6 separate regions of the Homo sapiens genome follow, and all the other regions are reported to be linked to region 3. The links are microRNA targets in miRTarBase. Many come from high-throughput screens and were not tested one by one. Region 3 holds a microRNA gene; each other region holds the end of a gene's coding sequence.

What was found. Region 3 holds the annotated microRNA hsa-miR-4684-5p (CUCUCUACUGACUUGCAACAUA, at 1,112-1,133, shown strand). A microRNA usually pairs through its seed, bases 2 to 8, with sites in the 3' UTR of a target mRNA and lowers its output. Matches are read on the target gene's strand: a 7mer-m8 pairs with bases 2 to 8, a 7mer-A1 pairs with bases 2 to 7 and ends in A, and an 8mer does both.
Region 1: the mRNA of AGBL5 is a reported target of hsa-miR-4684-5p. The part of its 3' UTR that is shown has no 7-base or 8-base seed match.
Region 2: the mRNA of TPGS1 is a reported target of hsa-miR-4684-5p. The part of its 3' UTR that is shown has no 7-base or 8-base seed match.
Region 4: the mRNA of ZNF136 is a reported target of hsa-miR-4684-5p. Seed matches in the 3' UTR shown: 7mer-m8 at 2,297-2,303.
Region 5: miRTarBase lists ADAMTS18 as a target of hsa-miR-4684-5p. Seed matches in the 3' UTR shown: 7mer-A1 at 2,896-2,902 and 7mer-A1 at 2,684-2,690.
Region 6: miRTarBase lists DHX36 as a target of hsa-miR-4684-5p. Seed matches in the 3' UTR shown: 7mer-m8 at 4,619-4,625 and 7mer-m8 at 2,756-2,762.

The regions. Positions count from the first base shown.
Region 1 is chr2:27,069,625-27,073,624 of GRCh38, forward strand. AGBL5 (AGBL carboxypeptidase 5) reads left to right here. Exons shown (of 15, transcript NM_021831.6): 14 at 1-82; 15 at 468-994. The coding sequence ends at 639. OST4 (oligosaccharyltransferase complex subunit 4, non-catalytic) reads right to left here and starts at 2,030. Exons shown (of 3, transcript NM_001134693.2): 1 at 1,977-2,030; 2 at 1,702-1,839; 3 at 848-1,097. The coding sequence starts at 1,838. The coding sequence ends at 1,725. RefSeq lists enhancers at 1,509-1,748, 3,179-3,238 and a silencer at 1,799-2,498.
Region 2 is chr19:518,777-522,776 of GRCh38, forward strand. It overlaps TPGS1 (tubulin polyglutamylase complex subunit 1), which reads left to right. Exons shown (of 2, transcript NM_033513.3): 2 at 113-878. The coding sequence ends at 647. Among named protein-coding and RNA genes, the nearest start is that of CDC34, 11 kb to the right of the region's middle. RefSeq lists an enhancer at 1-588.
Region 3 is chr1:22,718,419-22,722,418 of GRCh38, forward strand. It overlaps MIR4684 (microRNA 4684), which reads left to right and starts at 1,099; the gene lies at 1,099-1,180. All of the region lies in intron 1 of EPHB2 (EPH receptor B2), which reads left to right.
Region 4 is chr19:12,186,493-12,191,840 of GRCh38, reverse strand. It overlaps ZNF136 (zinc finger protein 136), which reads right to left. Exons shown (of 4, transcript NM_003437.5): 4 at 1,970-5,271. The coding sequence ends at 3,840. Among named protein-coding and RNA genes, the nearest start is that of ZNF136, 26 kb to the right of the region's middle.
Region 5 is chr16:77,279,519-77,284,866 of GRCh38, forward strand. ADAMTS18 (ADAM metallopeptidase with thrombospondin type 1 motif 18) reads right to left here. Exons shown (of 23, transcript NM_199355.4): 23 at 2,610-4,553. The coding sequence ends at 4,438. Among named protein-coding and RNA genes, the nearest start is that of SYCE1L, 83 kb to the left of the region's middle.
Region 6 is chr3:154,271,383-154,276,538 of GRCh38, forward strand. It overlaps DHX36 (DEAH-box helicase 36), which reads right to left. Exons shown (of 25, transcript NM_020865.3): 25 at 1,164-4,974. The coding sequence ends at 4,789. Among named protein-coding and RNA genes, the nearest start is that of DHX36, 51 kb to the right of the region's middle.

The DNA.
Region 1 (4,000 bases), not on the chromosome of region 3:
GCTCTTCAGGCCCCACATCCCCTACCCCCCGGACCAGGGAGAGCAGTGAGCTGGAGCTGGGATCCTGCTCTGCTACACCAGGGTGAGCACTTGGGTCCAGTCCCTCACACCACCCCTCACTTCTGTCCCCTCATTCCCATTTCTGTCATTCAGAATAATTTTCTGCTTCCCTACTCCTTTTGAGCACAAAGACTAAATGTACTTCCATTAAGAATCTAGTCCCTGATTTTTTTTTCCCCCACCATGGCCAAGTCTTCAATCCAAAGCAAAAGAAAACAACTTTTAGTCAGGGCCTAAGGTCTAGGAGCTGGCTGGTTCCAGCGTCAAACCACTGTGCAGTAACCAACTTGCCCATCCTTACCCATCTTCATCTCGCTCCACTTCTTTCACTTCCCAGCCCCTGGTTAGCAGAACAGAAGAGGAGGAGAGTTTTCACAGCCCTGATTCCTCTCTCTTTTCTGTTGCAGGCTGCCTCAGGCCAGGCCCCCACGGCCCCGCTCTGCCCCTGCCTTTTCTCCTATATCCTGTAGTCTATCTGACTCCCCATCCTGGAATTGTTACAGCAGGGGTCCCTTGGGCCAACCTGAGGTTTGTTTTGTCCCTAAATCTCCCCCACTGACTGTTTCTCCCCGGGTCTGATAATGCCTTTATGTTCAAGCCCAGGATATAGCCCCAAGATGGGGTAACAGTGGGAAATATGCTAGTTCCCCTCCAGGCCGCTGATTCCATGTGACAGCCGTTAAGTCCTTGGAATGCCAGCCACGCTGTCCAAGGCATTACAGAGTATCACCTTGAGACAGAACAAAACAGGGACCTGCCACCCCTTCCCTCCCTCCGCAGCACAAGATTTTGGGACCACAAAAAAAAGTCTATATTTTTATATTGGGGGGAGGGAGTAGAAAAGCAAGCCCCTATACTGGGCCCTATTCAGTGGCAGCTTCTTGTTCCATAGGATTAAGGAAGACTCTGAGGAAATAAAAGTTGTTTGGAAAAATCCAGGTGTAGTTGCTTTGTATGTTGTGATGGGTAGAAGGGATGAAGTGAAGTGTGAAGGCCCCTCATACCCTCCATCTTGCCTCAGACTATGTCCTGGAACCCTAGAAAAGAGGGGGAAAGACCTGAGGTAAGGAAAATGCTGCAGCTTTCCTCTGGGGAATCCTTCAGGAAGTAACGCCCATCCATGTTCCCTTTATACTTGTGACCCACACTTAAGGCTGGCTCCAAAGCCCCCCCTTCCTTCTCTATAGTTTGGGTCAGCAGCCAACCCCTGGCCTCAGAACATGGAAACAGAATTCTACATCTGTCACCCCCCTCACCAAAAAAAATCTGCCCAAATAAGGCCTAAACAACCTGGGGAAAATGAGGGCTATTTAAGAGCCCAAATCCTCATACTTGGATGGTTCCCTCGGTACCTTCGTTCCTACCGGTGTCAGTGCCTCCTTACAACTATACTCCCAACTTGGGCATCTACCTACTGGAGACTGTGAGGGTTAGGCAACCCACTCCCATTCTAGCAGGGAACAGGTTACGGGGAGAGGACAGCGCGCTCTCTCTCTACTCTGTGCAGACAAAGGGGCCCAGTTCTGGACTGTATCATGCTTGGCCCGACACTTTCTGATTGTAAGTTTCGAACCCTGCTAGCCCTGGCGCGGCCTCGCCACTCAGCTCTGGGGACTGGGCGCTACAGCCCCGGGCCGTTACCTGGGGCGGAGAAAGCGCCACTTTCATTCCTGCTTCTTGGGATTGTTGACGGCCACGTAGTGATAGAGAACGACAAGCAAGAAGAGCGACACGCCCAGCATGTTGGCGAAGATGGCGAGCTGCACGTCCGTGATCATCCTGCGGAGAAGAGAGGGGCTGAGCTGCGGGCTGGCGCACTCCTCGCCCTCGCAAGAACCCGTCCTCGCCCCACGGGCCAGCCACGGCCACGGCCACGGCGGGGCTGGCCCGTGGGACGGCCCCTGCGTGCCTCTGACCTGACCAGTCCGGCTCGGCTCCGACGCCACCAGCGAACAAGCCCGAAGTCAGAGACCTGGACCGGAACTTCGTAGCGCCAGCTCAGGCCCGAACAAGCCGCTTCCGGCGGGGGGCGCGGTCGGGACGGCCTCTCTAGCCCCGCCGTCTCGTCGGCTCCGCGCGGCGCGTTACGGCCGCGGCTGGGGCGGGGCCTCGGGCGCGGCTGCGGTGGGAGGTCCAGCCGTAGGGGGTGGGGCGGGGCTGCGGACGCGCGCCTGGGCCCGGCACCGCACAGCTGGCTGCAGCTGGCGTGGCTCGGGACGCGGCTAGCGAAGCCGTGGTGGCCGCCTCCCCGGAGCCGAGGAGTGGGCTGGGGCGAGGGTGCAGCGGCGGGGCCGGCGGGATACTCCAACCCCCTTCCGGCCCCGGCCCTCAGTACTGCTGCCCACCCTTCGCTTCCCGGCCCGGCCCAACCAGGTGCTTCCTTTGGGTCCTGCCCTCAGTGCCCTCTCCCTGGCCCGGACGGCGGGGACAGGGGTAGGAGGCGTTGTAGAATGGGGACAGGGCTGGTGCTGCCGGGTGCTCCTTTCTCCGGCGCCATCCTTTGTGACCCACATGCAACCAAGTAGAACCATCCTGCCTTTTGTGATCTGACCAGGTTCTGTCTTAGCCGGGCTCCCTCCCTCCACCCTACCCCCCGGAGGTGGGCGTCGGAAATAGGGCGGACCCTCCCGGAATCAAAACCCAAACCGTGGGACTTCGGCCAAGTGGGAAATCACCCCCCGGATGTGGGGGAGGGAGAAGGGGAGGAATGGAGAAGAGGAGGAAGGGCTGGGACAAGCAAGAGGGGTCCTGGGTTCAGGACAGATTAGGTCGCCGAAGAGAACGAAGAGCGGTGGCTGCGGGTAGCCGAGGGTCTCTGGCGAGGGGAGAGGCACCCTGGAACTCTCCAAGCCTCTGCCCAAGCCAGAGCTTTCTCCCCCCTCACTCCATGCTTTCTCTCAGCTTCACCATAAAAGGGAACGGCACTGAGCCAGGCCGGGGCCGGGGGCTGGGCTGTTGCTCTGGAGCTGTCAGGGGTAATGGAAGCCAGTTGCTTTGCGGTAGAGGGGGGCCAGGGCTCAGGGGAGGCCTCTGCTTCTCGGAGCCAAAGAAAACTCTACAGGAGATGCTATGGGCTTGGGACAGGGGACCAGTTTCCCGCCTGTGTGCACTGAGCTGGGGATGCACTATCCCAAAGTAGCCTTCCCGGGCCTGGGACCATCAACAGCTTGTCACCCAAGGGCTTCAGCCCCGTGGCTTCTAAACATAATCCCTGCCTTTAGTAGTCTGTAGTTCCCGTGGCCTCCCCGCACCTCACCACCAGCCCCCACTCAATATTTCCCAGAAGCTTGATATTTAGAAAGCCGAGTCCCCTCCACACAACACTGGTGAAACCCCAGACAGGTACTCCCTTATGCATCCCTCAGTAAGCGGTCTGTTTCCAGCTCCTCTCTGGGAGAGTAAGGGTCTAGGTCTTAAGGATTACACGTCATTATGCTTCATGTCTCCTGGAAATTTGAAGCAGATCCAAGTCCAACCAAACACTTAGGTCTACTGTTGAATCAGAACTAGCCCTCCCTTTTAAAAATAAGCTCTACCTTTAGGCCAGCCCTGGAAGTTAAACTTTCTAGACTGAAAATGACAGGAAAGCAAGCCTTGAAAGTGCTTAAAACCAATTGACCCAGGTGCATAGTATCCTAGACTATCAGAGCCGAAAGGGGCCTTCAAAATCATCTTATGAAGAAAGAAACTGGCCAGGCATGGTGGCTCATACCTGTAATCCTGACATTTTGGGAAGCCAAGGCGGGAGGATCACCTGAGGTCAGGAGTTCGAGACCAGCCTGGCCAATATAGTGAAACCCCATCTCTACTAAAAATACAAAACTTAGCTGGTGGTGCATGCCTGTAATCCCAGCTACTCAGGAGGCTGAGGCAGGAGACTTGCATGAACCCAGGAGGCGGAGGTTGCAGTGAGCCAAGATTGTACCATTGCACTCCAGCC
Region 2 (4,000 bases), not on the chromosome of region 3:
CAGGGCTGGCTGGGGGGTCGGGGAGGCTAGGGCATAGGCCTGGCGAGGAGGGGAGGCTGGGGCTGGGTGGGCGCGCGGTCTCTGCCGGCCCCCAACGTCCCCGTCTCCGCAGGGCCGCCTTCAACAACAACGTGAGCGTGGCCTACGAGTGCCTGAGCGCCGGCGGGCGCAGGAAGAGGCCGGGGCTGGACGGGCGCACCTACAGCGAGCTGCTCAGGCGCATCTGCCGGGACGGCCAAGCCCCCGAGGAGGTGGTGGCGCCGCTGCTGCGCAAGGTGCAGTGCCGTGACCACGAGGCGGTGCCGCTGAGCGTCTTCCGCGCGGGCACACTCACCTGCTTCGTGCTGCTGGAGTTCGTGGCGCGCGCCGGCGCGCTCTTCCAGCTGCTGGAGGACTCGGCCGCCGCCGTGGCCGACCGCCGCGTGGGCCAGGCCGTGCTGGACACCCTGGAGGGCGCGCTGCAGGCCAGCGACGCCGCCGCGCCCGCGCGCTTCCTGGAGGCCGGCTCGCGCTTGGGGCCCGACAGCCTGGCGCTGGCGCTGGACCGCGCCGTCGGGGGGCGGCGGCCCAGCGCGCCCATGACCCGCGAGGAGTTTCTGGAGAGGGCCGCCGCGCTCTTCATCGCGAAGGTCAAGCCGGTGGGCTGAGGCCCGTGGGCCGCGCGGATCCGGGATCTGCGCTGGGGGGTCCCCGCGTGCGGGGCGCGCGGAGCCTTCCCTTCGCCCTGGTGAGGCCCTGCCATAACCAGGCGCCCAGCCCTGCGGAGGAGGCCGGGGCTCCCAGGAAGCGGACGCCCGGTCCCCACACAGCGCCGCGGCCGCCCCTCCACCCCCGCGGGAGCCCCTGCCCCACGCTAATAAAATGTGTTGCGAGGCTGACGCTGGTGTGTATGCGAGCGCCCGCCTCCCAGCCCCGGTGCCCGCAGAAGACGCTTTTCCCCAGCAGGTCACCCACGGCCCCGGAACCGCGGCGACTGGAGGCTGGATTCGAGGCCGGAAACGCCGGGACCCCTGGACCCGGCCTGGTGGGAGCAGCGGAGGGGGACGCCCCACGGGGCCCTGCGGAGCCTGAAGCCGGAGAGCAGGCGGCTCTTCTGGAACGCAGGGCCCGGGCCCTCCAGCCCCGCCCGGCCCAGGTATCCTCCCTGAGCCTCAGTCTCCCCAGATGTCAAATGAAGAGGCCAGCTGGGCAGATGGTAGTGACATTGGTGAGACAACAGCCCTAACACTTCCCAGGAACTGAAGTGCCTCATGTGATTGATTCCCAGGCCCAGGCAGCGGAGGTTACACCCTCAGCAAGGGCTCAGCTGGGATCTGCGCCCGGCCTGCTCCAGAACGCAGCCCACTCGCCACCGGTGGGGAGGGTCGTCCGGTATCCCCCAGTGCCCACCACCACCAACCAGAATCACTTCTCAGACTGCAAGAGCGAATCCAGCCGGGCGTGGTGGCTCACACCTGTAACCCCAGCACTTTGGGAGGCTAAGGCGGCGGATCACTTGAGGTCAGGAGTTCAAGATCAGCCTGACCAACATGGTGAAACCCTGTCTCTACTAAAAATACGAAAAAAAAAAAAAGCTGGGCTGTGGTGGCAGGCGCCTGTAATCCCAGCTACTCAGGAGGCTGAGGCAGGAGAATAACTTGAACCCAGGAGGCAGAAGTGGCAGTGAGCCGAGATTGAGCCACTGCACTCCAATCTGTGCGACAGAGTGAGACCCTGTCTCAAAAACAAAACAACAACAACAAAAAAAAAACAGGCCAGACGCAGTGGCCCACGCCTGTCATCCCAGCACTTTGGGAGGCAGAGGCAGGTGGATAACGAGGTCAGGAGATGGAGACCATCCTGGCTAACATGGTGAAACCTTGTCTCTACTAAAAATACAAAAAATGAGCCGGGCGTGGTGGCGGGCACCTGTAGTCCCAGCTACTCTGGAGGCTGAGGCAGGAGAATGGCGTGCACCGAGGAGGCGGAGCTTGCAGTGAGCCGAGATCGCGCCACTGCACTCCAGCCTGGGTGACAGAGCGAGACTCCGTCTCAAAAAAATAAAAAAATAAAAAGTGAATCCAGAACTCCAGCTCCAGTTGCTGGCAGGTGACTTCACTCCCTTGGCCTCAGTGTCTCCTGTTAAATGGGAGTCCCCACAGCCTGTTCTGGTGGAGGGGGTCCAATCGGACATAGAGAACACTCAAGCCTTGTTTCTCCCCTGCTGTCACCGCCACATCACAGTCATCCACACAGAAAAGACTTCTGTGACCACATGTGGGAGCGTTTTTTCCCACACACCAACCAGCAGACGCCAGCCGGGTGTCCTCTTAATTCAGCTCTGACGCCTTCTACCCAGAGATAGTGTCAGATCCCACAGGCCGAGGGCTCAGTCCCCGAGCCTCTCCCTCTTCAGACACCAGTTGCGAATCTGGGCTTCCAGGACTTCGGTCTGGCCGGGTTCAAGTTGGGGTTCCCAGCACCCCTTTGGGTTCAATTAATTTGCTGGAGCAGCTCACTGAACTCGGAAACACTTGTGTTTCCTGGTTTACTATAAAGGATGTGGCAAAGATAGCAGAAGAAGGGACCACAGGTGAGGTACGTGTAGGGTGGGGATTGGAGTGCCATGAGGATGCACAGGGCACCATCTCAGAGCTTCCAGGCATCTCCACATGTTCAGCTCTTGGAAGCTCCCCAGAACCCAGTTCTCTAGGGTTTCGTGGTTTTTTGTTTGTTTGTTCATTTTTGAGACGGAGTCTTGCTCTGCCACCCAGGCTGGAGTGCAGTGGCGCAATCTCGGCTCACTGCAACCTCCCCCTCCTGAGTTCAAGCGATTCTTCTGGCTCAGCCTCCTGAGTACCTGGGATTACAGGCGCCCACCACCACACCTGGCTAACTTTTGTATTTTTAGTAGAGACGGGGTTTCACCACGTTGGCCAGGCTGGTCTCAAGCTCCTGACCTCAGGTGATCCACCCACCTCAGCCTCCCAAAGTGCTGGGATTACAGGCGTGAGCCACCACACGCGGCCTAGGGATTTTATGGAAGCTTCATGATGTCAGCATTACTTCCCCAGGGGTATAGGGCAGGACCCTCTTTGGGGAGGGTCCCAAGACCCGTAATCGAAAAGGTAAGATTAGAGCTCTGCAGCCCAGAGGAGGGCGGGAGATTATTTCCTGAGGCCTAACGAGCTCAGCAGTGCAGCAAAAGACTGCAACTAGGGCTTCAGGAGCTATGATCCGGGAACTGAGGAAGAAAACTACTCTCTATTCTAACACCACACACGGGAACAGAATTTTATTTTATTTTAATTTTTTGAGACAGAGTCTCGCTCTATCACCCAGGCTGGAGTCCAGTGGCGTGATCTCGGCTTACTGCAAGCTCCGCCTCCTGGGTTCACACCATTCGCCATTCTCCTGCCTCAGCATCCCGAGTAGCTGGGACTACAGGTGCCCACCACCACGCCCAGCTAATTTTTTGCATTTTTAGTAGAGACGGGGTTTCACCGTGTTAGCCAGTATGGTCACGATCTCCTGACCTCATGATCCGCCTGCCTCGGCCTCCCAAAGTGGTGGGATGACAGGCGTGAGCCACCGTGCCTGGCCTTCTTTTTTTTTTTAGACGGAGTCTCGCTCTGTCACCCAAGCTCGAGTGCAGTGGCTCAATCTCGTCTCACTGCAACATCTGCCTCCCAGGTTCAAATAATTCTCCTGTCTCAGCCTCCTGAGTAGCTGGGATCACAGGCACGTGCCACCGTGCCTGGCTAATTTTTGTATTTTTAGTAGAGATGGGGTTTCACCATGTTGGTCAGGCTGGTCTTGAACTCCTGACCTTGTAATCCACACACCTTAGCCTCCCAAAGTGCTGAGATTACAGGCATGAGCCACCGTGTCTGGCCGGGAACAGAATTTTTAAATTTTTACAAGTTCCACGATGGCAGAGACCACTCCTGTCTCCCAGTTTCCCAGCACTGAGCTGGGCTTAGGATAGGTGATCAATGAACCAATGAATCAATACAGGAAT
Region 3 (4,000 bases):
CTTGTTGCCCAGGCTGGACTGCAGTGGTGCAATCTCGGCTCACTGCAACCTCTGCCTCCCGGGTTCAAGAGATTTTCCTGCCTCAGCCTCCCTGAGTAGCTGGGATTACAGATGCCTGCCACCATGCCCGGCTAATTTTTTGTATATTTTAGTAGAGATGGGGTTTCACTATGTTGGTCAGGCTGGTCTCGAACTCTGACCTCAGGCGATCCACCTGCCTCGGCCTCCCAAAGTGCTGGGATTACAGGTGTGAGCCACCGCGCCCAGCAGCTGTCAATTCTTGTGCCAGACATTGTACTAACAGCATTATGTGTGTTGCCTTGTGCAGTTGCCCCAAGAGCCCCACAGGTCGTTGTATTATTGTGCCCATTTTACAGATGAGAAAACCAAAGCTCTGAGAGGAGTGACTGGCCCAAGGACACCTAGGGAGTGGTGAGGCAGCGATTGAAACCCAAGTCTGGTGACTCCAGAGCTCATGCTCTTCTCCACTTCTAGAATGTGCCTCCCTGCTCAGAGGAAAGGCTTGGCTCTGATGAGGGTCTCTAAGGCAGCTGTCCAGCTTCCAGCTCCATCAACATCCTGAGATAATGCAATGGGAGGGTTCTACAACTCACAAACCTGCCATAAAAATGCAATCTCTGTGATAATGGTCAGAATAATGTTGTTCTAACTTAGACAAATCGGGTGTTAACTCATTATGTTGTAAGGGGCGCCTCCACAGAGAATGGAGACTACGAAACAGTCACAGGGCCATTTGCAGCTTGTACTTCCAAATACAATAGCTCATCAGGCCTTCACAGCCATCCTGAAAGGGGCAGGAGCCACGGGGCCCACTTTAGAGATGAGGAAACTGAGGTCTGGGAGATAATATGACTCGCCCAAAGCCAGCAGCGGGACCAAGCTTGAAGCCCAGGGCCAATCTTAATAGCTCATCTATCCAGTTCAAATTCTTAGCCAACATTTGAAAATCAAGAGATTTTACAGAAAAGTCCTGTTTCTGGCGTTTCTGAAAAGTCAGACAATCTGGTTTCACAGGGCCCACATTCCCACATGGCCACAGTTGGCTGGAGTGACTGCCTCTTAAGACAGAATGTGTGAGCACCAGGGGTACCTCTCTACTGACTTGCAACATACATTTGTCTTGGTGTGTTGCAAGTCGGTGGAGACGTACCCTTGGTGCTCAACCCCTGTAAGGGCTTGAGTTTGCCTCCTGGATCTGCCCCTGTTACCCTGTGTGACCTGGAGTCAATTGCATGGCTTCCCGAGCCTCAGCTCTCTCTTCTATAAAATGACAGGGGTGAGACTCAGTGATTTTGGAGGCCTCTTCCAGCTCCAGGATTCAGTGCCCATTGCCAGGGTTCAGGGGTTCAGGCAAGGGAAGGGAGAGCTACAAAAAGTACAGGACTCCACTCCTGAAAAGCATATCACTTATCTTTAGCAAGCCACCACAAAACCTACTGGCTTAAAACAATAATGATTTCTTAGTTGTCCTGATTCAGTGGATTGGCTGGGCTCAGCTGGGTGCTTATTCTGTTCCCCGGGTTGTCAGTTGGGATCACTCAGGAGGCTGCACTCAGCTAGGTTGGGCTGGAAATTCCATCGTGGCTTCACATACATCTTTGAGGCCCTCATAGAGAAGGCTGGAAGGCTGGTCCCCCTACGCTCCTCGCTATCTCCCATCCTTTGCTAGTCTAGACTGCGCCTCTATCCATGGCAATTAGCTCCCAAGATGGTGAAATGGAAACTGCAAGGCTTCTTAAGGGCTGGGCTCTAATGTCACAAAGTGTCACCCCTGCAGCCTTCTGTGGTGGTCAAAGCCAGTCACAACACCAGCTCAGATTCATCCCAGGCTTCCTCATCAGGTTCAAGGAAAAGGAAAATATACTGGGCTTGATTTTTTTGTTTTATCCTTGAAGAGAAGTCCCATTTCTTGCTCAGCTGTTCAGCATGGAAAATTTAATGGTGGGTTATCCAGCGTCCCACTCAACATGTCCTGACCCACTGAATCAGGTGACACTCAGAGTTCAGTGCCCGCCCCTGCACCCTGTTGTTGTCCATGTTTCTTGGGCCAACCTGTGGTCCAAACTTGAATCTAGACGCCCCCTTACTGGGAGGAGTGGCTTCGTGTTTAGTAGGGGGAGGAATTGTTGGCAGCCATATTTGGAGACAGCCTCTCACAGGTAGTTTATCGTCCAGTCCAGGGATGGCGGTGGGGAGGCAACAGGAAGCCAGAAATCTCATTCCCCCCCCCCCCCGCCCCAGCACTTACCCCCGAATTGTCTTCAGTGTTATCTGCCTCTTCTGAGAAGGCAGGGACTTTCCACTTCACTATGTACAGCACAAGGCTTGGCTCATGATAGATATTAGATAGATGTTTGTGCAATAAACGAACCTAAAATTCATGAAAAATGGCAGCCTGGAGTTGTAGATATTCAAGACCTAGTATGAGGTGTGAGGCCAGAGAAAGGGGCCTTGGGCTGGTGGGATTGAACTGAAAAGATGGGTCCCTGGTGCTCCTGTGGCCTGGGGCAGGTCACTTCACCCCTCTAGGCCTCATTTTCCTTATCAGCGAACTGGGCATCATAATTTCAGGCACTACAGAAGGCTGTGCCGAGGAGTAACTGTGTTCTTCATTCTACTATGAAAGACCGGGTAAGGGGGTGACTGGTTGTCACTCCCACCTTGGCCAGAGGTCATCGCAGGAGTGGGGAAGCATTAGAGGAAAAGAAAAAATTCTAAAGGCATGGGCCAGTTATTGTCAAATTAAGTTTGGACCACAGGCTGGCCCCAGAGCACATGGAAATGTGTACAAACAGTGAAGTGAGTGGGTGGGACCACTGAGCTCTGAGCGTTGCTTCCAAAGACAGTTGAGGGGGACCTGGGCAACACATAGTCAAAGTTGACGCATTAAACCATTGAGCAAGAAATTGGCCTTCTGTTTGCTGGCAGACCAGGAAATCTGGCCTAACGTAATACCGGGAATAAATCACAAGAGTCTTGATCAGAGACTCCAGACTTGTGAGCTGGCCTGCGTTGTGAATGAGTGAGGTGACTTGACTGTTGGAAGTATAATAGTGCCCCCAGTAAGAGCGCATGTCCAGTCTAAAAAAGGCAGGTGCTACCCACTCCTGACCATGTTGTCACACAGGAATCTGTGTCCGGTTTTGCCACATCTTCTGATTTGCAAAGTTCTTTTTTTTCCTCTCTCTTTTTTCTTAGACAGGGTCTCACTCTGTCTCATAGGCTGGAGTGCAGTGACGCAATCGCAGCTCACTTAGCCTTGACCTCCTGGGCTCAAGCAATTCTCTCACCTCAGCCTCCCAAGTAGCTGGATCCATAGGCACCTGCCACCGCATCCAGCATTTTTTTTTTTTTTGTAGAGACAGAGTCTTTCACCATGTTGCCCAGGCTGGTCTTGAACTTGTGAACTCAAGCAGTCCTCCTTCTTCAGCCTCCCAAAGTGCTGGGATTACAGACATAAGCCATTGCGCCCAGCCTGATTTGCAAAGTTCTGATGCTTATGGGAAAACTGGTTTTTGTTTTGTTTTGTTTTGAGTCTCGCTCTGTTGCCTAAGCTGGAGTGCGGTGACACTATCTTGGCTCACTGCAACCTCTGCCTCCCAGGTTCAAGCAATTCTTGGGCCTCAGCCTCCTGAGTAGCTGGAACTACAATCATGTGCCACCACGCCTGGCTAATTTTTGTATTTTGAGTAAAGACAGGCACCTACCACCATGCCCAGCATTTTTTTTTTCTTTTTGGTAGAGACGGAGTCTTGCCATGTTGGCCAGGCTGGTCTCAAACTCCTGGCCTCAAGTGATCCACCTGCCTCAGCTTCCCAAATTGTTGGGATTACAGACGTGAGCCACCATGCCTGGTCTGAAAACTGGTTTTTGAATGTTTACTCATTTTATTCTAAAATACAGTTCTGGCCAAACCAAACCATGTTTGCTGGCTGGATTTGGCTCACTGGCTGGCAGTTTACAACCTTAGGTATTTGGG
Region 4 (5,348 bases), not on the chromosome of region 3:
GGCGTGCTTGGCTCACTGCAACCTCCACTCCCAAGTAGCTGGGATTACAGATGTGCACCACCACACCAGGCTAATTTTTGTATTTTTAGTAGAGACAGGGTGTTGCTATGTTGTCCAGGCTGGTCTCCAATTCCTGGCCTCAAGTGATCTGCCCGCATTGGCCTCCCAAAATGCTGGGATTACAGGGTGAGCCACCGCGCCCGGCCTGTGGTAGTATTTATTACCACAATTTATTACACCCTGCTTGACAACAGGGACGTCCCTGATAGTCCTTGGAAAGAAATCACTCACAACATGATTTGACTTTTGGTATTATGCATATGAAAAACTACTATCATCATAAAAGTTGTAATCAAATAAGCATGAAAACTAAAATTTATGAGGAAAAAAAGGCCTGAAGTTGTAAGCTCACAGTAATATTGACTCACAATGTTGGACAAATAGCTTAATTATAAAGTTTATCGGATCCATGATTGGAATGGGATATTTTAATATATATTCTCAATAAATACAAAACTCACCAGACAGTATGCAAGTTGCTTGCATACTGTTAATATTTCTAAGAAATGTGTAGAGAACTTTTGTTTGAGGAGGACATGTATATTGTTTGTAATCATATGTACTCAAACATAATTCAAAATAAACTGAGGGACTGCATTCAGCTATGAGTAACAGGAAACACCCACAATGTTTCTATAATGAATAAGGTGCTTATTCTCACATGAAAGAACGGGGTGAGACCCATCTCTGCATAATGCAGCAGAGGAACAAGCTCCATGTAGGGTTTTTCGTTTTGTTTTTGGATAGTGCCATTGTAGCTCTCAACCTGCATCAGTAACACTCACTGTCCCTATGGACAAAAATGTTTATGTACAAACTGGACCGTACAGGAACCAAGTCAGATCATCAGACTATTCCCAACAATGACAATATGAACTGATTACTTGGCAGATATATTAGGGCCTTCAGGAATATCCAAATGGCAGCTGAATCTTTGATATGAAGCTTTTAAAAACATCTATGGAAATCCATAACTTTGAGAACATGGAGGTGAAGTAGCTAGTGGTGGATTAGAGGATACTCTTTTTTTTTTTTTTTTTTTTTTTTTTGAGACAGGGTCTTACTCTGTACTCTGTCACCCAGGCTGGAGTGCAGTGGCATGATCTTGGCTCACTGCAACCTTCACCTCCCTGGCTCAAGCGATTCTCCTGCCTCAGCTGGGACTATAAGCACGCGACACCACACCCAGCTAATTTTTGTATTTTTAGTAGAGATGGGGTTTCACCATGTTGACCACGCTGGTCTCGAACTCCTCACCTCAGGTGATCCGACCGCCTTGGCCTCCCAAAGTGCTAGAATTACAGGTGTGAGCCAGCACACCCGGCTGAGGATACTCTTGATTGGCAGGGCAAAGAATCAGGAAAATGGGCTAGATGACCATGTCCAAACAGCCCATATGCATCTGTCTCTCCGTATGATGCCTCCAAAATCTGACTAATGCGTTCTTCACTTCTGCATTCTAAACTTCCAGGAATTTAGGCTATTGATGCAGTCTACAGGTAACCATGAAAGAAAGAAATTCTGGGCCAGGCACAGTGGCTTATGCCTGTAATCCTAGTGCTTTAAGAGGCTGAGGCTAGAGGGTGACTTGAGGCCAGGAGTTTGAGACCAGTCTGGGCAACATAGCAAGACACCATCTCTACAAAAAAAAAAAAAGATGAAAAACCAAAAATAAAAAGATTAGCTGGGCTTGGTGGCACATACCTATAGTTCCAGCCATTTGGGAGGCTGAGGTCGGAAGGCCACCTGAGCTCCAGAGTTTGAGGTTACAGTGAGCCACAGTCGTGCCACTGCACTCCAGCCTGAGTGACAGAGTGAGACCCTATTTCAGAAAGAAAGAAAGAAATGAAGTCTGAAAAGTTTAGTTCCCATTACCCAGATTGACATGACACAATCCATGAAAGGCATCTCCCATTTTAGATTTTATTATTCTATCATAGCTGTCTCCTTATCCCAAAATCAATTATACAAAGAGCAGCCAGAATAAATAACAAGGAGTAAAGAACAACAGGTTAAAATAATAATTCACGAGACTACAGTCTGTGATAAACTTTACATACTTAGAATTAACAACAACTCTTTAATAGGAAGCAAAATAAAATTATTTGAGCCAAGAAAAAAAAAATGGGCTAGGTGTGATGGCTCACACGTGTAATCCCAGACTTTAGGAGGCTGAGGTGGGTGGATCACTTGAGGTCAGGAGTTCTACCAGCCTGGCCAACATGGTGAAACCCCATCTCTACTAGAAATACAAAAAATTAGCCAGGTGTGGTGGCACATGCCTGTAGTCCCAGCTTCCTAGGAGGCTAAGGTGGGAGAATCACTTGAACCCAGAAGGCAGAGGTTGCAATGAGCCGAGATCATGCCACTGTACTCCAGCTTGGGCAACAGAGCACAGAGCGAGACCCTGTCTCAAAAAGAAAAAAGAAGAAAGAAAAAAGAAAAAAGGAAAAAAAAGGAGCTGTTCCAATAAATATGATGGAATGTATATAATGTGGAAAGGGAATCAAGAACCTGCTAAATGAAGCAAGTAGGTTCATACCAACATTTATTAAGACTTATTTTTCAGTGGTCCTCAATCACAGAACAATTAAGCAACCATATACAATTTAACATACCTGAATATGAGAAACACATTTAAATTCATTGTTGGATTAAACACATTTCAAAATGGAAAGACAAATATTTTATTTACTGACCTAAAACAACACTACCTATGAAATTCATGCACTATTGCTTTCAGATTACTTACAGGATTATATCAATTTAACATTTCTTTGTGAGATTAAGCATTTGAAATCCATAGTCAGAGAACTATTTTAAATATGAGCCACTAATTAACAAAATATACATATAGCTTCTACATTTCCATCAGGTTATGTATTTTCTAGAGACTACATGACCCGCTATGCATGAGGCTTTTTGAAGTACTTACATTTATAGGATTTTGCTGTATTAGAAGTTTTCAAATGACTTTTTTTTTTTTTCTGAGATGAGGTCTTGCTATGTTTTGCACACTGGTCTCAAACTCCTGACCTCAAGTGATCCTCCTGCCTCAGCCTCCCAAAGTGCTGGGATTACAGGTGTGAGCCACCACACCCAGCCAGAGCCAAAACATCTGTTCAAATTCAATACCTCAACTAGTGAGGCCCTGCTGGGATTGAAATCCAGCATCTCCTGTTTGCCAGACAAGTACTTTAACCCACAAAGCCACAGAGCCAGAGCCCTCAAATGACTTTAAAAGTATAATGGAAAACCTTCCTTGTAGTTTTCACATTTATAGTGTTTTGATCCAGGGTACATTCTTACATGTTGTTGAAAGCATGTGGGCTGGCTAAAAACGTGTGGACATTGCTTATATTCAAGAGCTTTCTCTTTTGTGTGTTCTTTCATGGCTTCAAGTGGAACTAAAATGACTAAAGGCTCTCCCACACTCTTTACATTTACCAAGGTTCTCTCCACTACACATTCATGTGTGACAGGGTTGTGTGATGACAAAACCTTTCCTACACCCTTTACCCAGGGTTTCTCTCAAATATGGGTTCCTTTCCAAAAAGCATTTGTTTGGTTTTCTCCATGATGAGTTCTTTCATGTATTTGAAAGGAACTAAAATGATTGAAAGCTTTCCCATGTTACTTACATGTATATGGCTTCTCTCTAGAATTCTTTCATGTATTAAAAAAGGCACTGACAGAATTTCATGCTTTCCCACGTTACTTACATTCATAGGGCTTCTCTTCAGTGAGTATTTTAATGTATCTGACATGAACCCAGAGCATTAAAGGCTTTCCCACATGCATTTATAAGGTGGTCCATCTTCAGCATGTGTTAACATGTGTCTCTGAAAGCTGGCACGGCAAGAATAGGCTTTCCCACATTCCTTGCAATGATAGGGTTTCTGTCCAGTGTGAGTCCTTTCATGTAGTCGAAAGGAACTAGAAGATCTAAAGGCTTTACCACATCGCTTACATTCAAAGGGTTTCTCACCAGTGTGAATCATTTCATGTGTTCGAAAGGAGTTGAGATAACTGAAGGCTTTCCCACATTGCTTACACTCATAGGGTTTCTCTCCAGTATGAGTTCTTTCATGTATTCGAATTGATGTTGAAGAAACGAAAGCTTTACCACAATGTTTACATACATAAGGTTTCTCTCCAGTGTGAGTTCTTTCATGTATTCGAAATGGACTCAGAGAATGAAAGGGTTTCCCACATACCTTACATTTATAAGGTCCTTCTCCAGTATGTTTTATCATGTGTCTTCGCATACTTGGGATACAACTGAATGCTTCCCCACATTCCTTACATTCATAAGGTTTTTCTCCAGTGTGAGTCCTTTCATGTATTTGAAAGGTACTGGCAGATCTAAAGGCTTTACCACATTGTTTACATACGAAGGGTTTCTCACCAGTGTGAATTCTTTCATGTAGTCGAAGGGAGGGGAGATAACTGAAGGCCTTCCCACACTGCTTGCATTCATAAGGTTTCTCTCCAGTATGGGTTCTTTCATGTATTCGTAAGGTTGGGGAACAACTGAAGGCTTTACCACATTGCTTACATTTAAAGGGTTTTTCTCCAGTGTGAATTCTTTCATGCACTTGAAATGAACTCAGAGAATGAAAGGGTTTCCCACATACCTTACATTTATAAGGTCCATCTCCAGTGTGCTTTATCATGTGTCTTCGAACACTTGTGATACAAGTGAAGGCTTTTCCACATTCCTGACATTCATAGGGTTTCTCTCCAGTGTGACTTCTTTCATGTGTTCGAAATCTACTGGGATAATCAAAAGCTTTCCCACACACCTTACATTTATATGGTGTATATCCACTGTGTGTGATGATGTGTCTTCTAATTCTTTTGAGAGAAAAGAAGGTTTTTCCACATTCCTTACAATCATAGAGTTTCTCTCCAGTGTGAATTATCTCATGTGTTCGAAAGGAGTGGTGAGAACTGAAGGGTTTCCAACACTGGTTACGTGTATCTGGCTTCTCTCCATATTCCTGATATTCCTTTGGTTCATGTCCACTGTGATCTTTGATGTGTCTATTAAGGGATGACTGACCCATGCTGACTTCTCCATATACAATGCTTTCACAGAGTTTCACTCCAGGGATTTTCTTGCTCAGATTCTGATTTGCAAACTGGCTAAAAATTCCTCCACGCTGACTACCATCCTTAGTTTGATAGAGTCTTTCTAACATATGACTTCTGTAAAAAATGAGACGGACATTACTAAGGATTTGTTAATCATTTTATATTAATAGCTATTAAACTTGCATTTTCAA
Region 5 (5,348 bases), not on the chromosome of region 3:
AGTCTCACTCTATCCCCCGCGGTTGGAGTGCAATGATGCGATCTCAGCTCACTGCAGCCTCTGCCTCCTGGGTTCAAGTGATTCTCCTGCCTCAACATCCCGAGTATCTGGGACTACAGGTGCCACCACCAAGCCCGGCTGATTTTTGTATTTTTAGTAGAGACAGGGTTTCACCACGTTGGCCAGGGTGGTCTTGAATTCCTGACCTCAGGTGATCGGCCTGCCTCAGCCTCCCAAAGTGCTGGGATTATAGGCATGAGCCGCCGTGCCTGGCTGAAATATTTTTTACAGCAAATCATATTTTTACTTAAATAGATTTAAAAGTTGGTAGAGGTGATACGTGCTTATGGGGAAAACTCATGATGATAGCAATTGAGTGACAACAGTTTGAGAATCACCTCTCAGGAGTCTGTGGTCCTCTCAGGAGGAAGAAGGTGTCAGTCACCCAGATCCAGGGGTGACTGACGAAAACCGTCTTAGGTGTTGACCCTCAGCACCAGTGGAGACCATAGAGGTATTCAAGGAATTAAGATCTTAGGGGAAAGATAAGGTAAAACAGACAAAGCATGGAATCCTTATGCATATTTTTACATTTTCAAAGATAAAACCATATAGCACATAATTAGATGACCTTTTCCACATCACACTTAGCAATAATGGGTTCTGTGTTATAAATTTTCATAAACCATGTCTTACATAATACATGCTGGTGTATTGTGAGGTATTGTGGTGTATTGGGCTATTGTGAGGATTAAATGAGATAACATATATAAATAGTTTATTACAATATCTGATTCCCATTAAACACTAATATGTGGTTGCTTATTACCAAAAGCTATAAAGAAAGACAACTTTTTTTTTTTCCTGGTGTGGTATCGTCTTTCTACCGTTAGCATATAGAACCCATGCCAAGAGAATTCTCGCTCATGCTTTCCCTCCATCTTAATGGACTTGGAGTTGCAGGCTCCAGATACTCTGGTGTGATTGCCCAGGAAATACTATCATCCCAGAGCAAAGCAATTATTACAGATAAAGACTTAGATATGCAACAAGTCTTTAAGTATACTTTGTTGAAAAGACTAGGTAAGGATTTATTATTTCTCAACCCCAGTTCCCCATATGAAATTCCCAGCTCTGCCCGTAATTTATCATTGTTAAATCACTTATTGTCAAACTCCATTCACATGCATCTCAGGGGGCAAAAAGTAGAGTTCTAAGGCCTGCATGCCCTTCTTTTTCTTTCTCTATCCCAGGGTAACGCAACACAGTCACGAGAACCCCAATGGATTTGGGTTTGAGTCCTGACCCCATCACTCAGTGACTGTGTACTAGGGCTAAATACGTAATGTCTCTGAATCCGAGTTGTCACCTGCCAACAAAGAACAATAGTATCTTCCTAAGTGGGCTATTGTTAGGATTAAATGAGATAACATATATAAATAGTTCAGTACAATACCTGATTCCCATTAAACACTAATATGTGGTTGCTTATTACCAAAAGGTATAAAGACAATTTTTTTTTCTGGGCGTGGTGGTGGGCACCTGTAATCCCAGCTACTTGGGAGGCTGAGGCAGGAAAATCGCTTGAACCTGGGAGGCGGAGGTTGCAGGGTGTTGAGATCCTATCATTGCACTCCAGCCTGGGCAACAAGAGTGAAACTCTGTCTCAAAAAAAGAACAAAATATCTTTTTTTCTGTCACGTATTTTATCTGCATCTATTCCATTTTCCATTCTTAATCATAATTTTTTGTTTGCTAAATAGCAATAAATTATATAAAAATTCTCTTAACTATAAAGATACGCATATGAACTTATGTAGACACACATGTAATCACAGATGCAGGGAAAAATACAGTATTTTCAGATCAATTGGACATAACTTTGCCCAGTTCTTATTCTCCACTGGTTTAATGATTCAAAATTTCAAAAAGCCAAGAACAATTACTTTTTATTTTTTTCATGTTTTCCTGCCCATCCTTCCCTTCCCCCTCTTTATTTTTACAAAAATATTTTACTAGAATGACTTTTAAATGTAAAAATACATTTATGGTAGTTTTATCTTAGATGATTTCCACAAATGTTCTCATGACAATTACAGGGGAACAAAATAGTGTGTCCTCAAGAGGGTAAATGTGTCATCTGTTTCATCCTAGCATTTCATACTTTGATTTCTTCAAAGGCAAACAAGAAAAATCACTAGTTGTTGAATAGCTTATCTATCTTTCCTCTTCTCAATGAAGTTACTCTGTAGATTTGTTGTTGTTGAGACAGAGTCTCTGTCTGTCACCCAGCGGGGAGTGGTGTGGCCCAATCTCCTCTCACTGCAGCCTCAGCCTCCCAAGTAGCTAGGACTACAGCTGTGTGCCACCACAGCTGGCTACTTTTTTTGTATTTTCAATAGAGACAGGGTTTTGCCATGTTGGCCAGGCTGGTTTCGAACTCCTGGACTCAGGTGATCCGTCTGCCTTGGCCTCCCGAAGTGCTGGGATTACCGAGGTGAACCGCTGCACCCAACCATTCTCTAAGAGTCCTGAGTGACATTTATACAGTTAAATTACCTTTGAAATTATGGACTTTTCACTAACTTATTCAAGAACTTAACAAGCTGTCAAAGATAAAGAAATGGAATACTTTATTATAAAACTTATAAAATAATTAAATATTACACATATATTTTGACTTTTCTCTATAATCCATGGTTTTATTCAACATTTTATCTCAAAATATTACTTAGAGAAGCAAGTGAGAACACATAATAGGCTATTAATTAATAAATTAATTTTCCATAAAATAATAAAATGATAATTATATAAAGAAATAACTTGCTGTTTTTCAGAAGGCAACGGGGTTGTAGTAGAGAAAATTTTTTTTTTTCCTGTTGATAAAATGGCCACTTCTCTAGGCCAAGCCAAGCAGATTGAGAGAAGTTCCTAAGCATTATTTCTCTGGGATTCAAGAACTCATGACTTTAATTAGAATGGGAACGAAGTATGCTGCTAAATTTAACAAACCACTGTCTAGTTGATTATGCTGAGCTGGCTAATCCAGCTTGAATTGAGACTTTTTAAAGAAGTAAAATTGGGTTACATTCATCAAAGAAGTTGAGGAATAAAGTAGAATTTATGTAAATATGCCCTTTATAACCACTTCTCAAAAAATTACAGGAGGACACAGTATTATAATTACTTTGGTTTTGGCAAAATAGTGTGATGTTTTTTCAATTGAGAACAATTTTAAACTCATTAATGCCTACCAACAGCTGGCTTCTGATGACTGAAAATACTCTTATTCAGTGAGGGTCTTGTCATATTATGATTTATTAATATTAACATAGCAAGAAGACAGATGGATTTTTTTATTACCACTGTTTACTCCTTTCTTTCTCTCTTTTTTTTTTTTTTTTTTTTGCTGTTAGCTCAATCCTAGGGCAAATTTAAACGTATCAGTTGGTAGGAAAAAGCCACAAGTGGCCTTTAATTTTCCAAGCAGCTCTGGTAGTATGTACAGAGCATTATAAATGATGGTCCTTTCTCCCTCAAAACACTGCTGTGTTTTGTCATTTAGCTCCTCCTAGATATTTTTTAAATACCAGAAATGGGTATGTAGCATTCCCAAAGAGCGGGCTGTAGCTTTTCATGGACTGATTCAGCAAGCACCAAAAGTTACGAGGTTGATAACATGTGAAGGGCATCCATATTTATCTTTTCTATGAGTTGTTTCCTTGCATGAATTTCAATTACATGGAGATCTTAAACAGTCCATGTTGCCCTATTTTCATAATATTCCTTGGAATACTTTTCAAGTTGTCAATTTTAGTCTCAGAGACTCTCTATAAGCAGAATATAGTTTACACAAAATAATAAAGACACACGCACACCAAATAAACATAACATGAAGCTTGCCAGTCCAGCAGCAAGCACAATTGCGAGCACCATTTGGCTTCTCATAGAACTCCTGGCTTGGGTGTTCACAGGGTTAGTCGAACTGTGAACTCCACGCAACAGTTAGGCAAGGTATTCCATCCAGATTTGAAAGTTCTGAGTCTCAGTCTTTGACCTGAAGTCATAAAGGACCTTTTTAAAACAGATGTCTTTGCCCTTGAACCCTTTGAAGTTCAAAAGGGGGTCTCTCCCCAAATCGACGTATCTCAGTGTGATTCACCACTTCTTGCATATAACAGTGCAAATCAAAGATTTTTTTTAAAGTCAGATTTGTCATCGCTTCCCATTTTCAAGTGCTTCAGAGTACCACGTGCTTCAGGGAATTGAGCTAGAAGCCTACTGGCAACCTGTCTGTTCCTCAGAGCAGGCTCCTTCATCACAGCGGCAGCTCACAGATGGTTCTCGGTGCTCAGCTCCTGGTCTCAAAGGCAGCTGGTCTCTCTAGAGGTTGAAAGGTAAGCCCCTGGCCCTAAGGTGCTGGGGAGGACACCAAGATCAGATCTTCCTTGTGCATGACTTGCAGCATTGTTTTCCGTAAAACTTGTGGTTGCAGACACCATGCTGAGGAACTAGGTGACACCAGTTGAAGAAATCTACGCAGGATGGATCCTCTAAAATAAGAAAATATATTTAGCATGTTGGCTAGGGTGTCTATCCTTTTTCTTTTTTTTTTTTTTTGAGATGGAGTCTCACTCTGTTACCTAGGCTGGAGTGCAGTGGTGTGGTGTGATCTCCGCTCACTGCAATCTCTGCTGCCCAGGTTCAAACGATTCTCCTGCCTAAGCTTCCCAAGTAGCAGGGACTATAGGCAAGTGCCACCAAGCCCAGCTAATTTTTGTATTTTTAGTAGAGACGGGGTTTTCCACCATGCTGGCCAGGCTGGTCTCAAATTCCTGAGCTCAAGTGATCTGCCTGCTTCGGCCTCCCAAAGTACTGGGATTACAGGTGTGATCCACCGGGCCCAGCCTTTGGTGATTTGCATATTATGATTTATTAATATTAACATAGCACCTTTTTCTTAAGGTGAGGGCCTACAGAACAAAGGTCTTGGGCCCACCTCCCTTGTGCCTCTATGTGGTTTTTCCCATTAAACATTGGGACTTTGGTAGGGGGGTGAGGTAGGGGCAGGATTTAGATGCCAAGAAAAGACTCTGACCATTAGCAAAATTAAATGATTTGTTTTTAAAAAATGTCACATCTAATCCAAGATCAATGTCTGATCCTCCCTATGTAGCCTGGGAGCTACCATGGAATTCAGTGTCCAGGGAAATACCCTAAAATGGTGCTTTAGGGATCCCCTAAGGATATTGTTGTACCACTAGTACCGCTGGTTCTGATTGAGAAGGGCTGTCAGAGGGGAGCATTAAGGGAGGGTGTGCTGCTGGTCCACGAACTATAATTTCAGG
Region 6 (5,156 bases), not on the chromosome of region 3:
CTTTTTGTATCTCTAAAATTAATTAGTAATCTTCCTTCTCCGTAGTCAGATATATCCTTAAAACTCCAATCATTTGACATGAGATGAAAAATCAAAACCCAAACAGAAATACATAAGATAACTAAGGAAAAAGCAAACAACATGAAAAGATGCTCATCATTAATCATTTTAGAAACAAAAATTAAACCATAATGGGACAGGACTCCTCATCCACTAAAGGCTAAAATTAAAACGACAGCTAAAAATACCAAGTACTGGCAAGGATGTGGAATACTCTGACCCCCCCAACACACATTGCTGTTGGGAATGTAAAATTTCAGCAAATTCTGAAAACAGTTTAGCAGTTTCTTATACAAACACACTTACTATAATACAACAACCTTAATCTTAGGTATTTACCCAAGACAAATGAAAACATATAACCACACAAAGACTTATATACATATGTTCATAGCAGCTTTATTCATAACAGCAAAAAAACTGAAAACAACTCAAATGTCCATCAACTGGTAAATGAATTAACAAACTGTGGTATAACTATACAATGCAAATACTACTGAATAGAAGATAAAACAGGAACTACCTACTAATACATGTAACAATATCAGTATCTCAAAAGTATTACATTAAGTGAAAGAAGCTGGACACAAAAGACTGGTTATTTGAAATTCTAGAAAAGGCAAAACGAAAAGTGACAAAACGCAGATCAATGGGTTTCGAGGGGATAGAAGTGGGGGTGAGGGATTGACTACAAAGGGGTAAAAGGGAAATTTTTAGGTGATACAAATGTTCTATATCAGCTGGGTGTGGTGGTTCACGCCTGTAATCCCAGCACTTTGGGAGGCCGAGGCAGGTGGATCATGAGGTCAGGAGTTCGAGACCAGCCTGGCCAACATGGTGAAACCCCATCTCTACTAAAAATACAAAAGTTAGCCGGGCATGGCGGCGCGTGCCTGTAATCCCAGCTACTCAGGAGGCTGAGGCCAGAGAATTGCTTGAACCCGGGCAGACGAAGGTTGCAGTGAGCCGAGATTGCGCCATTGCATTCCAGCCTGGGTGACAGTGCGAAACTCCATCTCTGGGGAAAAAAAAGTTCTGTATCAAGATTGTGGTGGTGGTAATTACACTACTATATGTTTGACAAAATTCACTGAATCATATACTTAAATTGGTTAATTTTATTGTATATAATATCTTAAAATTTATTATATATAAAATAATACCTAAAGTTTATATATATCAAAATGGAACAATGGTAACATGATTTACTTTGCTACATTTCCAAATATTGTCCAGGGAGGATGTATTATTTTAAAATCAGAACAAAAATCCCATTTAAAAGCAATTAGCATATTAAAAATATATAAGTATACATGATCACAATGACTTATAAATAAATACAAACTCAGAGCTAAGAACAGAAGGAAATTTACCACTATTTATTTTGGGTAAAGGAGTACTAAAATTCCTCCTAAAGCTTTTGTATAATTCATAACTTTTAGGGGAGGACTTTGTTTTAAAAATGCAGTAATAGAGAATGCCTTGCAACAATTGGTGTAAGTTTATCTAGAGCTTTTGCCCAAATTAATTAATTGGGAAGGCATCACATGTGCTCACTGTTCAACGATGCTTTTGAAAGATTATTCAGTAGTTTAATTTCTTTTGTTTTTTTCCTGAAAGTTTCTGTTTCAGGTTTTTTTTTTAAGAGTTATTCTCTGCATTACTCAAAATGATGAATCAAACAGATTTTCCTTCTTAATTTAATGTCTTATTCTTTAAAATCCACTAAAGAACAAACAGTTCTTAGACCTGGAATGTATTTTCTACTCAGTAATGCCCTATTTTGTAAACAAAAGAAACAGAATGTAAGTAGCACCTTGGATTAAAATGTCCAACCTAATCAGCTGTGCAGAAGACATAAATTGGAGGTAACAATAACTGCTTTAATCTCTGTGAATGCCTCATCAATTAAATAATTCCTCAGGAACATTTTCCCCATTCATATGGGAATTACATACTGGTTTGCAAACACAGAACCAACTAATAATCTTTTTTACAGAATCTCTAAATCCTTTCTTCCAAGACCATTTTGGCCAACTGACTGGATTTAAACTGGATAATAAAAGTAAGGGAAAAAAAAGCACAAACAGAAACTCTTACAGAGCAAGAAAGACCAGATGGTCACCTCGACGTTAGAGGCAAAACCAGTATGCTCTAATATTGTGACATGACTCTAATGCCAGCATTCAATGACAGACAGATCACTTTTAGAAGAACAGCCAAGATAAAGGATTTGAGACATAACAGGTAACACACATTCCCAGGATTGGGAGCAGTACCTGAACAAGTGCTGTTAATGGATCACTGTAGCATTATCAATACATCCCAGTCATTGTATGATACTATTAACTCTTTCGGTTTCCTTGCATTTATTGGAAGGCACATTAAAATTTGCATTCTTTGGAGTGCAGCAAGATGCTTTTCCTGTTTCTTTCTGCAGCATGTCCAGCACTTTTACACCTTCTGTCAGACAAATAGGTTAAAACTCTTACATTGCAAAATCAAGAGTATAATACTCAGTGATGGATAGTGTATGTTTCTGATTAATACCCTTTTTGCCAAGTTAAAAATACCCTACTAGGGACCGGGTGCAGTGGCTCATACCTGTAATGTCAGCACTTTGGGAAGCCAAGGCGGGCAGACTGCTTGAGCACAGGAGTTTTGAGACCAGCCTGGGCAACATGGTGAAACGGTGTCTCTACAAAAAATACAGAAATTAGCTGGGTGTGGTGATGCATGCCTATAGTCCCAGCTATTTGGGAGGCTGAGGCAGAAGGATCACTTGAACCCAGGAAGTCGAGGCTGCAGTGAACCAAGATCACACCACTGCACTCCAGCCTGGGTGACAGGGCAAGACACTGTCTCCAAAAAACAAAAAACAAAACAAAACAAAACAAAAAACCAACAAAAAACTAACAATATCCTATTAAAAGTGGCTTAAACAATTGAAGGGTTTTTATTATATCAACATAAGTCCACATGTAAAGCAGCTCTAGAATGGGTTAATTCTGAAGCTTACCGGCATTATCAAAGGCTCTGGTGAGTTCTATCTTTCCACTGAGCTAACCTCAGTCTGAGTCCGTGTCTCCTTGTGATCATTAGTTGGCTGCAGCAGTTCCAACTATCAGAGTCAGAAAAGACAATGTCCAGAGAGAGCAGGATTTCCTCCTCTAAGCCTATTAGTGAGTAAAACATTTTTCAGACACCCCCTTGAAGATCACTTCTCAGCTGCCATTCACTAGGACATGTTTATGTACTCATGCCTTATCAATTACTTATAAGGGGGATAAGACCACATGTGATTCATTTAGAACAGCAGGATTCACCCTTAGGGAAAGGGTCCAACATACCTGGACACAGAGCTGCACAGAAGGGAACACCAGAATAAGCAAGCAAGAAGGGAGGGACAAAATAGTTGCTGGCCGGCAACCAACAGTATTTATCACAATCTGATAGGGCTGAAAATGTACAGCATGTGTTGTTACACTATTCCTTGGCGAAGAAGATAAGTAGCAATAAAATAAAAAGTGTAATATAATAGATTGTTAGACATTTACGAAAATATTTCAGGGACAAATAACAACTAAGATTCAGAGAGTACAGGCACTAGCCTATGTGCTTTACATGTATTAATGTACTTCATCCTCACAACTGTTACATGTACAGTTGTCCCTCAGTATCTGTGGGGGACTGGTTTCCAACCCCAACCCCTCAAATACCTAAATCCATGGATGCTCAAGTCTTTTATAATAAAATGGCGTAGTATTTGCATGTTACCTAGGCACAACCTCCCATATTCTTTAAGTCATCTCTAGATTATTTATAATACCTAATACAATGTAAATACTATATAAATAGCTGTTAAACTGTATTGTTTAGGGAATGACAAGGAAAAAAGTCTGCACATGTTCAGTATAGACACAACCATCCTTTTTTTCCCCAAATATCTTCTATCCACAGTTGTTTGAATCCACAGATGTGGAATGCATGGATATGAAGGGCCAACTGTATCTTACAAGATAAGGAAAAAGGAGAGAAGCCAAGACACTGACTAACTGACAGAGCTGAGACTGGAACTGAGGTAATCAGGCTCCAGACCGTGCTCTCAATTGCTGTATTATGAGGCACAGGGTGATATAAAAAGGGCACGTGTTTTAAAAATAGTAAAAATATCAAATGAACCAAGCCATAGGTGAAAATGTAGAAACCAATCCAAGAGGTTGGCTGAGATTTAACATTGTACATTTTATTAAATACTGGACTTTATTACAACAAATTAATTTACTTCCGATAGAAGTTTCATTTTAAAAAATGTGGTTGTGTTCAAATTCTTAATTGACACTTGTTTTGGGGTAAACATCCTATTTTTACTGGTGGTATCATCAATCATTATGAGCAGAAAGATTAATTTTGTATAACAGAACAAAGGAATTTCTCAAGTGGTACAATACTCAATATATATAAAGGGAATATACTCCCAAAGAGTGGGCATGACCACAGCAGAGTATATGATCAGAGAACATATTGCTTTTATGGTATATATATATATATATATATATCTCTACATATAACATCAAGTCATGCACATTAAGTCTTTACTACCTACTGAAGGCTTCTACCTTACACATGAAAATTGTTCATGTCCCAGGGTTTGGCATCCAGCCAAAATTTAAACAATGATGAAGAATGGCTGTCAAACTGGCTTTTCAGACCACCCCTGAAAAGCTGTCAGCTGTAATATCCATCCTGGAATCGTGGCGGAAAGTTCCTGGGAGTTGCCTTTTCCTGTGTTTTGATCAAGTCTATAATAGCTGACAGTACTGCACAGTCTCTGGATTTAGTGTCATTCCAGTCTACAGGATGAGGACTTTCAATCTTCTCTTGCAGAAGAATATCTAGTTCCTTTCTTAATTCCTAAGGTTGGAAAAATTATACATGTTCAACAAAGGCAGATATATTACCAAATAACATAATAAATGAAACTAATTTACCTGATACAAGGAGTTTCACAAGCGATGGCTCAAAAGCTAAAACATTTAGTGAGCAATCAACTAAAGTGTGGTTATGAGTGAATAACTAAAGTGCAGTTAAAATTC